Homo sapiens: one gene and its partner. The protein of the gene in region 1 binds, or shares a complex with, the protein of each later gene. Each region holds a gene or a part of one and is shown on either strand. Other genes may lie near its edges.

Evidence for each region. Proteins that work in one complex are often made in the same cells at the same time.
Region 2: PPP2R1A (region 1) and STK25 share a complex: the UniProt entries of both Homo sapiens proteins name them as parts of the core of STRIPAK complex.

What each region holds. Positions count from the first base shown.
Region 1 is NC_000019.10:52,193,045-52,200,065, reverse strand, and holds part of PPP2R1A (serine/threonine-protein phosphatase 2A 65 kDa regulatory subunit A alpha isoform), read right to left. Parts: intron 1-7,021. UniProt on the Homo sapiens protein: The PR65 subunit of protein phosphatase 2A serves as a scaffolding molecule to coordinate the assembly of the catalytic subunit and a variable regulatory B subunit.
Region 2 is NC_000002.12:241,505,582-241,513,499, forward strand, and holds the start of STK25 (serine/threonine-protein kinase 25), read right to left. Parts: upstream 3,004-7,918; 5' UTR 2,862-3,003; intron 2,765-2,861; exon of another isoform or gene 2,555-2,764; 5' UTR 2,455-2,554; coding exon 2,425-2,454; intron 1-2,424. UniProt on the Homo sapiens protein: Oxidant stress-activated serine/threonine kinase that may play a role in the response to environmental stress.

The sequences.
Region 1 (7,021 bases):
AAGATCTTGCGTGAGTTGGGTTCTCCGGTCCAGGAGTTGAAGAATATCTCTGCGATCACAGACGATGAGCATCTGATGAAGTGTTGTGATGGTCTCTCCTCAGAAAAATGCACACAGTAAATCTTTCATACAGGTAGTCCAAAAACTCACCATTCTGGCATTAAACGGACCTCAGGATAAAGTACTACAAAACCTGCAACTGATTTTCAGCTAAAAAATAAAACGTATATAGAGACAGACCTATAGAAAGATAAAAAACTAATATAGCAAACACTAACAATCACTGACCTGGGGTGTAAGTATAGAGGTGCTCACTGCACTATGCTAGAAGTCAGCAAAACTTATTCTATACATTGCCAGACAGTAATTATTTTCAGCTTTGCAAACCTAACTACTGAACTCTGCTTGCGTGGCACTGAAAACAACCATAGAACCAGAACTAGAGAAGCAAACAGGCATAGCTGTGTTCCAATAACTTTACTTGCAAAAGCAGACAGTGGGCTGAATTGGACCCATGGACTGTAGTCTGCTGACCCTTGTGTTAGTCTTCCAAAGTTATGCATGTCTGAAAACTTTCATAATAAAATACTGTGGGGAGGCCAGGCGCAGTGGCTCATGCCTGTAATCCCAGCACCTTGGGAGGCCGAGGCAGGCGGATCATGAGGTTAGGAGATCGAGACCATCCTGGCTAACACGGTGAAACCCCGTCTCTACCATAAATACAAAAAGAAATTAGCCGGGCGTGGTGGCGGGCGCCTATAGTCCCAGCTACTCGGGAGGCTGAGGCAGGAGAATGGCGTGAACCTGGGAGGTGGAGCTTGCAGTGAGCCGAGATGGTGCCACTGCACTCCAGCCTGGGTGACAGAGTGAGACTCTGTCTCAAATAAATAAATAAATAAAATAAAATAACATAAAATACTGTGGGGAGTATTGACCTAGTTGCCTATTTCTTTCCTCTTTGTTTTCTCCAAGTTGATCTGTGTGTTCTTCTCTCAGCCTGAGCTATGGGGAAATATACACATGGGCTAGGGCCATACTAGGTGAGCAACAGCCCTGAGGACAATGAGATGGTACAGGGAATAATTACAATTAATAATCATAATCATAAATGCCAGAACAATAGCAACAAACATTTATTGTTTGCTACGTGCTTGGCAGCAATCCAAGTGATTGACATGGATGATTAACACACTGAATCCTCATAACTGCTCTGAGGTATGTATTGTTAGCAGCGTCCCCACTTCACTGATGCACAGAGGCGAGTGAGGACACTGATGCACAGAGGTGAGGCTGTCACTTACTGGAAAGCAATGAAGCCAGGCAGCCTGACTCAATTTCAATATCATACTGTCATTTAGGCAAAAATGTTTGTATCATGAAGCTTCCATAAAAACCAAAGAGGAAAGGATTCAGAGAGCTTCCTGATAGCAGAACATGCACATTCTTGGAGGGTGGCATCCCCAGGGATGGCACGAAAGCTCCCCGCCCCTTCCTCCATAGCTCACCCTATGCACCTCTTCATCTGTATCCTTTGGAATATCCTTTATAATAAACCGGTAAACCTAAGTGTTTCCTGGAGTTCTGTGAGCCGCTCCAGCAAATTAATCAAACCCAAAGAGGGGGTCGTGGGAACCCCAACTTGAAGCTGGGGATGCCCAAGAGGTGGGCCCATGACAATCAGGCTGCTTTCCCATCCAGAGAGCTCCCTTCCTTCCACTGCTGTTCTTTGGGATTCTGCTTTTGGTTTCATTAAAAGTGTTTCTTCAGGCAGACAGCATCATCAATGCTTGAGAAAGATGGCCTAGGGTGGTACTACAGAGCTGCACTGTCCAGGTTCAAGGCTAAACTGCTTACATATTAGCTGTGGAATCTTGGGCAATCCTTGTACCTTTCTGAGCCTCAATTTTCTCATCTGTGAAGTGGGGATGATGAGAATACCTACCCTCAGAGGGTTGTCTTGAGTACAAAATGACATTCTACAGGGACACCCTAGCACCAGGGGAAGATTAATAATGGCAGCCGTGGCAACCACGCCTCACTGACAGCATCCTGATTTTGTTCAGATTATTAAGAAGGACATCGTGGCAGCTGGTCCACTGATGTTTCTTTTCCCTTTTTTCACCATGACAGAATAATAACAGTAAATATTTCCTTAGTCTCTACTATGCCCCAGGCTTTAATGTTTTAATTCATTTGACCCTCACAATCCCATGAGGGAAATACAGAATCCCCCGTCTTGAGGCAGAGAACACAAAGGCACAGGGAGCTTAACTGCATACAGCTTACTGGTAGTAAAGCCAGGATTTGAATCCCAGCCACCAGGTTCTTAACCAGTACTATGGATTCATATTTGCTCTGTTTTTTCTTTTTTGTTGTGCTTGTTGTTGTTTTGAGGCAGGGTCTCACTCTGTTACCCAGGCTGGAGTGCAGTGGCACAATCGTAGCTCACTGTAGCCTTGACCTCCCGGGCTCAAGTGATTCTCCCGCCTCAGCTACCCAAGTAGACGGGTCTACAGGCAGGTGTCACCAAGCCCAGCTAGTTTTTTAACTTTTTGTAGGGATGAGGCCTCACTATGTTGCCCAAGCTGCCCTCAAACTCCTGAGCTCAAGCAATCCTCCCACCTCGACCTCCCAAAATGCTAGGATTATAGGCATGAGCCACTGCACCCGGCTTTTTTTGGTTTTTCTCTTGTAGAGGGGTGGGGTGGTGCCATGAATCCCCTTAGCAGGTCTAATAATGAACGCAATTTTGAAAGAGGTGAACATAAACAACACTAGAAGATATGTATAATAGCAGAAATGACATGTGAACACAACTCCTGATTTCCACTGGTAAGTCACAGGTTTTGCTAACGCTACCTATGATATACTATAGTGATATTATAATCTATAACAGAAGGGAAGTTAAATGTAAGTTAAAGGTTAATGAAAATAAAGATGTTATTTTTGCCATCCAAATTCATGGACCTGCCTGGGAATTGCAGATGATCCCCAAGTTAGGAGCTCCTGCATGGGGCTATACTGCTGTTCATAATCCTTGGTTTTCAGCTGTACACATGACCCCTGGAAAAGACATTTCTGAATTGCCTTTGCATCTGAATGTGACTATAAAACTAACATCTGGCCAATAAAATCCAAGTGGAAATGTTTTGTGCAACTTATAGGGATGGGGGTCACACTTATCTTCCCTCCTTCCTGTCTGGAATGGAGCTATAATGGTTGGGGCTTCGGCAGCCAACTTGGGGACCTGAGGTAACCTGGGGGACACGGAGGGTAGAATGGAGGATACAACCAGCGCATAATGGTAAGAGCCTGGGACCCTGACACCATGAAGTGCCACAGCAGCCTGGATTGCCACCAGACATTTTGGTCATCAGTCAGATAGAAACTTCAAGCTCATTTAAGCCCCTGTTATTTAGAGTTTTTCTACTACTTACAGCCAAACTTAACTTCAACTAACTCTGCATATGACCTAGTTCTTGGCAAAGAGATATACAAGCAAGTCTGCTGAGGAGATTCAGGAGAGATTTTCCTCCTTCATAAAAGGGAGGAGGGAAAGAACCTCTGTGTCCTAAGCTGGCCTCTGCTAAACTGCACTAAAAAGTGCAGTTCCACTAGGACAGCAGATGCTGCTGGAATCTTATAACCAAAACAGGCCAGTCAAAAAAACCGCATTTCTGTGATATCTTTGAGCTGACCCAATTCTGTGATAGCTTTGAGCTGCTGAACTTGCTATATGAGAAATAAAGAGAACTCTTACTTGTTTAAACAACTCTAGGTTGGGGTCTCCGTCACATTCCTGATAGAAAATCTATTAATATCATTTCAGAAACCTTGACTGGCCATTGATCATGTCATATCCTGAGAATTCCCTGTGCACTGACTATCTCCCAAGTGTGTCCCCACCAAGCACCTGCTACAGTTGTGATACTGTGAGATACAGATTTGGGCTTCATCCCCATTTCCTTGCATACAACTCCTCAAATCTTTGGAATCTCCAAGGCGCTTTTTGTATGCTAATGTTGACTGATACCTTCAGGATGGGGTCCATGGTCACTGGAAAGATAGTCATGGAAAACAGAGAGGCATGATTAGAGGGTTGGGATTTTCAGTCCCACCCCACAACCTCCAGGGATCGGAGAGGGGCTGAAGGTCAAGGTGATCACCAGGTTTAATCAATCCTGCCTACCTAACAATGCCTTTATAAAAACCCAAAAGGACAGGGCCTGGGAACTTCAACATAGCCGAACACACAGAGGTTCCTGGAGGGTGGTGCACCCAAGAAGGGCATGGAAGCTCCACACCCCTTCCCCCATAGCTCACCCTATGCCTCTCTTCATCTGTATTCTTTATACTATCCTTTATAATGAACTGATAAACTTACATGTTTCCCTGAGTTCTGAGAGCTGCTCTAGCATATTAATCAAACCCAAAGGCAGGGTGGTCATGGGAACTCCAACTTGAAGCAGGTAGATCAGAAGTTCTGACGACCCAGAATGGCAACTGAAGGCGAGGGCCAAGGGGCAGTTTTGAGGCCTGAGCCCTCAACCTGTTGGATCCAACACTGTCTCCAGGTCGTGTCTGAACTGAATTGGAGGACATCCAGTTGGCGTGTGCTGCAGAACTGAATGCTTGCTTAGTGGTGGTGAAGAATCCCTCCCCACCCCAACACACATTTAGTCACGGAAGTCTTCTTCTGTGTTGTTGATTGTTGTGTTAAGTGAGAGAATAGGAATTGGGATTTTCCAAAGAGTCCACCCATATGGTTCCATGACAGCACTTACCACCCTAGACTGGGACTCTCTGTGTCCCAGCAGGCCTCGGCACAGAGCCTGCTCTGTGGTGAGTTAATAAATAAAATCCGCCTTCCCACTATATGCACCTGTGGAAAGGGGACCCACTTTTGAAGATCCACCCTGCATTCAACCCATGGAGCCTTCCATAATATGAATGTATATGGTATAATCCCACATGTAGTATGTTTTCCCTGCACATTCAGAATAAAAGCTAAGGCCTTACTCTGGCCTACAAGGCCCAACACAATCTGACCCTAGTCTACTGATCCATTCTCACTGGGCCTGGCTTGTCACAACTGCTTCCTTGATAGTAACCAAAAAAACAAACAGCCCAGTGTATTCCCAACCCAGGCTTTAGCACTTGCTGACTTGGTCCCACACGGTTCCCCAGATGCCCCATTTCCTCAGGTCTGCTCAATCCCCACCATATGACTACCGCAGAACAATGAGCAAGCCAATTTCACTGCATCTTCACAACCAGGCACACGCTGATTCTTCATCATTATCCCCATTTTGCAGATGAGGAATCTGGGTCCAAAGAGGGGAAAGTACTGCTCCAGGGGCACACAGAGAGCACAACTGGCAGAGCGGGGGTTCAAACTTCAGTCACCCTCAACTCTTCCCTCTACATTACCCACCAGCAAATCCCATCAGCCCCCCTCAACATGTCCTGACTGTAACCATACTTCCCCCCTGCATGCTAACACTGGTCCTGGGTGCTTTGTAATGGCACCTCAACAGGGCCCAACCCCTATGACAGCCAGAGGAAGGATCCTTTAAAATTATACCAGAACCCATAATTACTACTGAAAGCCTTGCAATTCCTCCTCCTCCCTCCCATCTTCAAGGCCTTCACCTTGGCCCACAGGCCTCACTTGATCTAGTCCTGGTCTAGTCCTCACCTCCCACCACTTTGCCATTCTCTCTGCCTCAGTCACACTGGCCTTTTTGCTGTGCTTTGAACGCATCAAGCATCCTCCCACTCCTGGCCTTTGTACCAACTATTCCCTCTGCCCAGACTGCTCTTCCACGACCTGTTCATTTCATTCAAATCCTTGTTCAACATCACTTCCTCAGAGCAGCTTTCTCTAACCTCCCTATCTAACAAAGCAGCCCCAGGTGCTTGCTCTATTCCCTGTACCTGTCTTATTTTGTTCTTTTTTTTTTTTTTTTTTTTTTTTGGAGACAGGGTCTTGCTGTCGCCCAGGCTCTCACCGCAGCCTCGATCTCCCTGGTTCAAGCAATCCTCCGACCTCAGTCTCCTGAGCAGCTGGGACCAAGGCCTGTGTCATCACACCAGCTAATTTTTTTTTTTTTTTTGGTAGAGACAGGGTCTCACTTTGTTGCCCAGGCTGGTCTTAAACTCCTGGGCTCAAGCGATCCTTTCACCTTGGCCTTCCAAAGTGCTAGAATTGGCCAGGGGTGGTGGCTCATGCCTGTAATCCCAGCACTTTGGGAGGCAGAGGCGGGCAGGGAGTTTGAGACCAGCCTGGCCAACATGGTGAAACCCACTCTCTACTAAAAATACAAAAATTAGCTGGATGTGGTGGTGGGCGCCTCTAATCCTAGCCACTCAGGAGGCTGAGGCAGGAGAATCACTTGAACCCGGGAGGCGGAGGTTGCAATGAGCAGAGACGGCCTGGACGACAGAGTGAGACTCTGTCTCAAAAAAAATAAAATAAAATAAAACCAAAGTGTTACAATTAGGCTTGAGCCACCACGTCCAGCAATTTTTCTTCTTAGCAATTACTGCCACTGACATCCCACTACAGATCTACTATCTGTCTCCCAAACCAGAATGTAAACCCCACAAGGGCAGCTTTGCTGTTTTGTTCCCTACTGTATGTCTAGTATCTAAAACAGAGTCTGGCACACAGGAGGTGCTGATAAATATTTGCTGAACAAATAAATCAAGACTACAGGATTTCATGTCCCATGTTCCTTCTAGTATCCTGAACTGTCTCAGACACAATTAAAATGTCTGGCATATGAATATAATCAGCAACCGTGTGTCCCACCCCAGATTCTATTCCACCCTTAGGTCCTACTTCCTTTCCTGGCTCCTTCATTTCTCAGCTGCACAGCTTTGGCCATGTTATTTATGGTGCTTCAGTTTCCTCATCTGGAAAATGTGGACAAGGACAGGACCTACTTCAAAGAGTGATTGTGAGAATTCAGTAAGATCGTCAGTGATATTCCTCTGTACTGTACCTAACATAGAGCAA
Region 2 (7,918 bases), on another chromosome or scaffold:
CACAGGGCCTGGAGCTGAATCTGCTCCATCACAGCAGCCCCGGTAGGGAAACCCCTGGGTGGGCACTCAGACCTCTACTGCTTCACAGCAGGGGAGCACAGCGGACCCCTAAGCCAGAGCCAGGGCTCATCAGCCCAAGCAGAAACTGTGTGACAGGAACCCTCTTGGCTGTGATCCTGGCCCTACAATGACATCGCAGGCCAAGCCAAGGCAAGCCATCCCCACCCCCACCTGGAGAAGAAAGGGTAAGTGGGCCCCTGGCCTGGAGGCTGCGAATCCTCTTTTGGATGTAGCAGCAGCTGTGGCCTGGATGATCACTCGGGCCACTCAGCTGACTCGAGCGGTGGACACCTGTTCTCCACATTAGCCCTGGGGCTGCCAGGTCTGGGGCCTCCACTTGCCAATGTGTCTGCTGTCAGTGTTGCCCCACAAAACAAGGGGAATGACCCAGCACACATAGCTGAGTGGTGATACAGTGCTCTGGCACCCCACAGCCATTCGGGCCCTCCAGGGCCAGGCAGGAACTGGCCAGGTAGAGGGGAGAAGTCTAAGGCAGGAGCACAGGCTATGGGGGGAACGCGCCCCACTCTCCCACAAAGGGGCTGCCCCACAGGTCCACAGGACACCATGGCAACCATCTCAGGAGAAAACCACAGCCCCTCAGGTTTTCTGCCACTATATGAAGTCAAGTCTCTCATCATCCAGGCTGGGACAAAGGGATCCCTAAAAGGACAAAAGGAGCTTCCTACCTTTGGAATCCCTTCTCCAATGTGCCCGCACTCCCTTCCCTGTGTGCGATCGCACCAAGAACCAATAGCACACAGTTACAGGGCACCTCGGAGCTCCAATTTCTCATCCTGTGACCCAAAGGAGTTATTTCTGCAGTTCTTAAAAATAAACTGGTGGCCGAGCGCGGTGGCTCATGCCTGTAATCCCAGCACGTTGGGAGGCCAGGGCAAGCAGATCACCTGAGGTCAGGAGTTTGAGACCAGCCTGACCAACATGGTGAAACTCCGTCTCTACTAAAAATACAAAATTAGCTGGGCATGGTGGCGCATGCCTGTAATCCAAGCTACTTGGGAGGCCAAGACAGGAGAATCGCTTGTACTTGGGAGGCAGAGGGTGCAGTGAGCTGAGATTGCACCATTGCACTCCAACCTGGGCAACAAAAGCGAAACTCCGTCTCAAAAAAATAAAAATAAAGTAAAATAAACTGGTGGCAGATTTTTCTCCCAGCACCTTAGTCATGTAAGTTACCAGATACAGAATGCCAAAAGCAAACCAAAAATCTGTTAGCTTAATTCAGCAACAGTCAGCAAGCCCCAGTCTCATCTGTGACCACGCAGGTCCAGGTTGCCTGGCCCAACAGCTGCACATGGTGTTCCGGGTCTCTAGGCTGGTCCGGTTTCCTCCAAAGCAGCCCTGACTCCAGTTCCTGCCCCTACGCGAACAGACGCCCTTCCTGTTCCACTGCAGGCCCAACTCTCCATTCAGCACATAGGAGTGAACAAGGAGGGCCACACATTTTAGCGGCGATTCCAACGCCTTAGGTAGAGCCAAGGCATCAAGGAGAATAAAACCGAACAGCTAAGATGTAAGAAAACCCAGCGGCCAGAGTCAAAAAAGTGGGGAGGGGTAGAGAATGCAAGTCCCCAGGCCCCAGGTTGGCTGACCCCACCCTCCTTCCCCGGCAAGCCCTTTGGCACCAGCAGCTGGTCCTCATTCCAGGCTAAGGGCTCGCCGTAGTGGCTCCCTCCGAGGCTGTCCCACCAGACGCTTAAAGGTGGCTCCATAGTGGAAACGACTTCTTTAAAGAAGAAAGATGAGTCTCATGTTCGGGCAACCGCCCGTCGCAGGGGTTAAACGGTCCTGACAGAGCAGCCTTTTCACCCTCCCCTGGGCCAAAGCACACACGTGTTCTCTGCTTTCCCTGCACACCGGCCACTCAGATCTGCTTCTCCACAATCTCAGCCCCTCAGCGCCCGCCAGGGTCTCCCCTACAGCCCCTGCCCAGCCCAACACGGCCAGAATGACCCGCGGCCCAGGCCGAGGCCGCAGGGTGGCCCCCGACCTTCCACTGCCTTCGGATGCTGACATGAGGTTCCCGCCCCGCGCTGGGGGCAGCGCCCCGTCCCTGCGCCGGTGTCTCTTCACGCACCTCCACCGCCCTCGCACAGGCGGAGCCACCAGGGGCTCGGTTTCTAGAGGCCTGCGAGCTTCTGCCACGCAAAACGCCACAGGCACACGGCAGAGCCCCGGGGCCGCCCTGCGCCCACCTCAGGACGGCTCCGCTGGTCGCACGACGCGCGCTCCTTCCCTCACCCCACTGCCCGCTCCGGCGTGGCGCTCCCCTCTGAACCCCCAGGAGACTCTGGAGCCCCTCGGTGAGAGGCCGCTAGTCTTCCTGACCTGCACCCTTCTCACCTGGTTGGCAAATCCCCGGAGGTGAGCCATGGCCGCGCCGCCTCAGACCCTCCGCCAGCAGCCCCAGGAGGCGTCTGGATCCCGCGGAGAGGCGCGGAGCCGGCTAGCTCGCCCCTGCGGCGTCAGTCCACTGCGAGGGACACCAGGGGCGCTCGGTGCCCAGTTCAGTCATCTGAGACCGACCTCCGGGGCGGCGGGCTCCATGGGTGGGGGGGGGCCCAGGAGACCCCCCAGGCCGCCGGGGCCCCGCCACGCCCGGGCCTAACGCCCAGGCTCCCGGGGGCTCGCCGCCCCTCCCGTCGCCGCCCCCACCTCTTCCAAGGCAGCTTCCTCCCGGTGCCCCCGCCCCGGTGTCCCCGCCACCGAGCCCCGCCCCGGGCCCCTCCCTCTGCCCCCTCCCCAATCGCCGCAAGCGCCCCGCCCGGCAGCGCGCCCACCTCCGCGGGGCTCCATCCCGGCCTCCCCCGGCCCGCTCTGCAGCGCCCGCGAAGGCTCCCACCCGCAGCCTCTGTTCGCCCGGGGACCCCGGGCCTCCCAGCCCGCGAAGCAACGGTGGTGGCGGCAGCGACCGGAGAAAGCCCGGAGGCGACGGCGAGGGCGGTGCTCGGCGTCGCGGCCCGCGCACGGCTCTCTGGGACCCCGAGTCCCACCGCCCACTCCGGGCCCGGAAGCCTGCTGGCGTTGGACTACAAGTCCCGGCAGGCTGCGCGAGAGGGGGCCGGGGCTCGCATGCGCGCCGCGAGGCTCTCTGGGACCCCTAGTCCTGCTCCCGAAAGGTTTGGACTGCGTCTCCCGGCAGGCCGCGCGCCTGGGCGGGCGGGGCACGTGGTCGTTGTCGCGTCGCGCCCTCCCTGCCTCGCCCTCGCGGGTCTTCTGCGTTTGCTGGCGCCTGCCAGGCGTCGTCTCCGACGTTACGGCGGCCGCGCGGCCCTCTCCCTTGGGCTCTGCCCTGCGCAGCCCTGGTTCGAGCGGGCCAGTGAGGCCCGGCGCCCTCCCCGCCTCGCCACGAGGATCCACCGCGGCCGCCCAGGCTTCTAGCCTTGTCGTCACGGCACGGAGATAAGCCCGCGCTGGCCACATCGCGAAGCCCCTGTTCGTACTGAGACCCCGCCCGGGATCACGCGCACAGGCCAGGGCGCACCAGGCCTTGGAGAAGCTACCGGCACAGCCCATTCCTTGGGCGAGTTGCTTCGCCTCTCCTGCCTCAGTTTCCTTACCTGTCAAGGGGTGGTCATAGGACGTCCTTGGTCACACCGTTGTGGGACCCACCTGGGCTAGAGCGCGGGACGCGCCCAGGACAGTGACTGCTGCTGGAAGCCGTCATGGCACTCCCCAGGGTCCGGGAGGGACTTGCAGATCCCAAGGCTACCTGGTGCGTCCCCGTGCCCCGTGGGCCGCCAGGTCATAGTGCCCCCTGTGTGCATTCCCCTAGTGCACCGCAGGGATCCCCACCTGTCCGGTGAGGAAGATTTGTCCCTCCTGCATACTGTGTCCACCCTTACAGGCCCTCACTCTCCATGATGGCTCAGCACAGGTGACTATCCTGACCTCCTCACATCCCTCCTTCTTCGAGAGGGTTCTGGCGTTTCTCTCTGCTCCCTGGTGCGTGTCTTCTCATGGTGCACTGCCGAGTCCTTTAAGAAGCTATGCTTCCCTGTCATGCGTCCAGGACAGCCCCTTGAACCCCTCCTGGGTCCGCATCTCTCATCACCCCTGCTTCTTTACGTACTGACTTGGCTTTGTTTGTGCTTTGACTCCCCAGGAGAAAGTGGGCTTCCTGCAAGCGGAGCTGTGCCCAGGACCATGCCAGCCCACGGCAGGCGCTCAGTAATGTTTGTTGAATGAATGTGTAAATGCATGAAGATAATATATGTATTTAATGCATGTAAATAGATGCCTGCTGCATCTCTGGCCTTCGTGTGGTCAGTAATCGCTGCACTTTTCCGAAGTGCCTAGAAGAGGCTGGGAGCAGTGGCTCACACCTGTAATCCCAGCACTTTGGGAGGCTGAGGCAGGCAGATCACTTGAGGTTGGGAGTTCGGGGCCAGCCTAGCCAACATGGTGAAACTTCATCTCTACTAAAAATACAAAAATTAGCCAGGCATGGTAGTGCGTGCCTGTAGTCCCAGCTACTAGGGAGGCTGAGTCAGGAGAATCGCTTGAACCTGGGAGTTGGAGGTTGCTGTGAGTCAAGATCATGCCACAGTACTCCAGCCTGGGAGACCGAGCAAGGCTCTGCCTCAAAAAACAAATTAATAAAAGTGCCTAGAAGAGTTTTTCAGCCTTTGCCTGCTTTTGGCCAATTGTTAACCCTTTGCTCCTGGCTGCTGTCTTGCTAAGCTGCCGTCCGGACGTGATCATCACCATGTCTTTTCCTGCATTGACCTTCCAGGCCCTTCATCCCGTTTCTCTTGTTTTCCATTTCTTTTTTGTTGTTGTATACTTCTGTTATTCTTCGGGGTTTTTGTTTGTTTGTGTGTTTGTTTTGAGACGGAGTCTCACTCTGTCTCCCAGGCTGGAGTGCAGTGGTGCGATCTTGGCTCACTGTAACCTCCGCTTCCCAGGTTCAAGCGATTCTCCTGCCTCAGCGTCCTGAGTAGCTGGGATTATAGGCGTGCGCCACCACCCCCGGCTAATTTTTGTATTTTGAGTAGAGACGGGGTTTCATCATGTTGGTCATGTTGGTCAGGCTAGTCTCAAACTCCTGACCTCGTGATCTGCCCACCTCTGCCTCCCAAAGTGCTGGGATTACAGGCATGAGCCACCACGCTCGGCCTTATTCTTCGGTTTTATCTTTCAACTTTCATATAAAAATTTTCTTTTCAGTGATTCTTTCTTTTTTTTTCCCAGATAAGGTCTTACTCTGCCACCCAGGCTGGAATGCAGTGCGGCAATTTTGGCTTACTGCAACCTCGACCTCCCAGGCTCAAGCAGTTCTCCCACCTCAGCTCCCCATGTAGCTGGGTCCACAGGCACATGTCACCACACCCAGCTAATTTTTGTGGAGACGGGGTCTCCCCATGCTGTCCAGGCTGTTCTCAAACTCCTGAGCTCAAGTGATCCTTCCGCCTCAGCCTTCCAAAGTGCTTTCAGAGTACAGGTGTGAGCCACTGAGCCTGGTCTCTATTTTTCACCTCCAAGAAATTTTAGTTTTTTCTCTGGGCACTCACTTTCTTCCTTGGGAATATGGCGCTAATAGTACTTTTCTTGTAGATTGTGAGAATAACACCGTATGTGGCGGGCCTGGCCCTTGGCAGGTGCTCAGAGAGTCACTGTGTTTATTATTGACAAGGCTGACCTTGGGTGGGAGGAGGGAACACTCACAATTGAGCCCCTTGGGCAGCTTACCTTCAGGTCCAGTCACTTGGTGACTGCAACAGCCCTCCGAGGCAGGCAAGGGATAACTAAGAGGTAAAGGGACGTGCCCAAGGCCACAACCAGAATATGGCAAAGACAGGATTGAACCCAGGTCTCCTGAGTCCTGTTTGTATGCTGCTGGGAATTCAGGTAGGAGTGGAGAGAAGCTGGAGTTGGACTTTGTGTCAACCTGGGTCAGGTGTGAGTTGGCCAAGCCACCCTCTGGTTTGACAGACAAGGAAATGAAACCCAGAAAGAGGACAGCATAGCAGCATCTGGATTAGAACTGGGTTCCCCTTCTGATTAAGATAAGAGATCGGGCACTTGAGCTTGTTCTTCTTTCCCTACCAGGGACCTGATAACTTGTCAAAAGGGGCTCAGGAAGGGAGGCTAAACCCTGAAACTGTTCAGAGAAAGGAGTGGGTTCCCAGCAGGTGAGTGCCACAAATGTCCAGAGGTAAAGCTTGGTGACAGTGAAATGGGGGGAAGAAGCCTTCACTTGAGCCCCCTCCATTGGATACAGAGCCCTGGAAAGGTGAGGGGCTGGAGCTGGGGGAGAGGAGGTCGACAGCAGAGACACCATGGAGACAGGTATGTGCATGAGTCAACAGCTTCCCACTCCTCATCCCTCCATCCCCTCACACACACAAATCATACAGCAACAGGGTTTCCTAGCATAAATAATGTGGGGGTATTCCAGAAAAAGACACCCCTGTAAGGTGGGATTTAGGCTGGCCTGAGAGTGGGCTTCCTACACAGTCTCTACAGCAAAGCCCAGCGCTTGACAAGTCCTGCTTTTGAATGCAAACTCCTTGTGAGCTTCCTAACACCTCAGTCTTAGTCTCTTTAAGACTGCTAAGGATATTGGGTATTTGGGAAGACTTTCAACATGAACAATAGAGACCAACGTAAATTAGAAAGATGACGTGAGAAGAAATAGAAACACAGAGAAATGAAGAGCATTCTGGAACCTCGTTAGAACATTCCTAGAACAAACACAGAATGCTTCAAGAAACAGCCCAAGAAAAGGCTATCAGGAGATAAAATGACAATAGATTAAAATTACCGCAGGCTCTTGGATTCTTACTTTTGGAGAAGTCAGCCTAAGAAATCTACCCAGAAACTCATGTGGAAAAGACACACAAAGGTAGATGCAGAGCCAGCCCTGAGCTGTGTGGCCACCCCAATGTCAGACACATGAATGGAAATGGAATTCCAGCCTAGGTGAGCCTTCAGACAGCACCACCCCTAGGTTCTGTCACCACAACTCTTAGGAGGAGCCACTCAGCTGGGCTCAGTGAACCCACAGAACCAAAGACATTGATAACATGTTTTAAGAAAAGTAAAGTTTAGACTGGGCGCGGTGGCTCACGCCTGTAATCCCAGCACTTTGGGAGGCTCAGGCTGGTGGATCACTTGAGGTCAGGAGTTTGAGACCAGCCTGGCCAACATGGTGAAACCCCGTCTCTACTAAAAATACAAAAATTAGCTGGGCATGGTGGCACACGCCTATAGTCCCAGCTACTTGGGAGGCTGAAGCAGAAGAATTGCCTGAACCTGGGAGGTGGAGGTTGCAGTGAGCTGAGATCATGCCATTGCACTCCAGCCTGGGCGACAGAGCAAGACTTTGTCTCAAAAAAAAAAGAAAAAGTTTATAATTTCAGCATGTTGGAAGGTCAAGGTGGGAGAATCACCTGTGTCCAGGAGTTTGAGACCAGCCTGGGCAACATGGCAAAGCACTATGTATGCAAAAAATGCAAAAAAATTAGCTGGATGTGGTAGTGTGTACCTATGGTCCCAGCTAGTTGGGAGGCTCAGGTGGGAGGATTGCTTGAACTCGGGGAAGTGGAGGCTGCAGTGAGCTGCGATCATACCACTGCACTCCAGTCTGGGCAACAGAGTGAGACCCTGTCTCCAAAAAGAGAAAAGAAAAGTTTAGTTGGAAGATAAAATTAAGGAACTCAGGAAGTAAGATAAGCTTAGAAGTTCAAGTCCAGTACCAAACTAATGGGAATTCCAGAGAGGAAGAAAGTGCCAAAAATTCCTTTTTTTTTTTTTTTTTTTTTTTTGAGTCTTGCTCTGTCACCAGGCTGGAGTGCAGTGGCATGATTTCAGCTCACTGCAACCACCGTCTCCC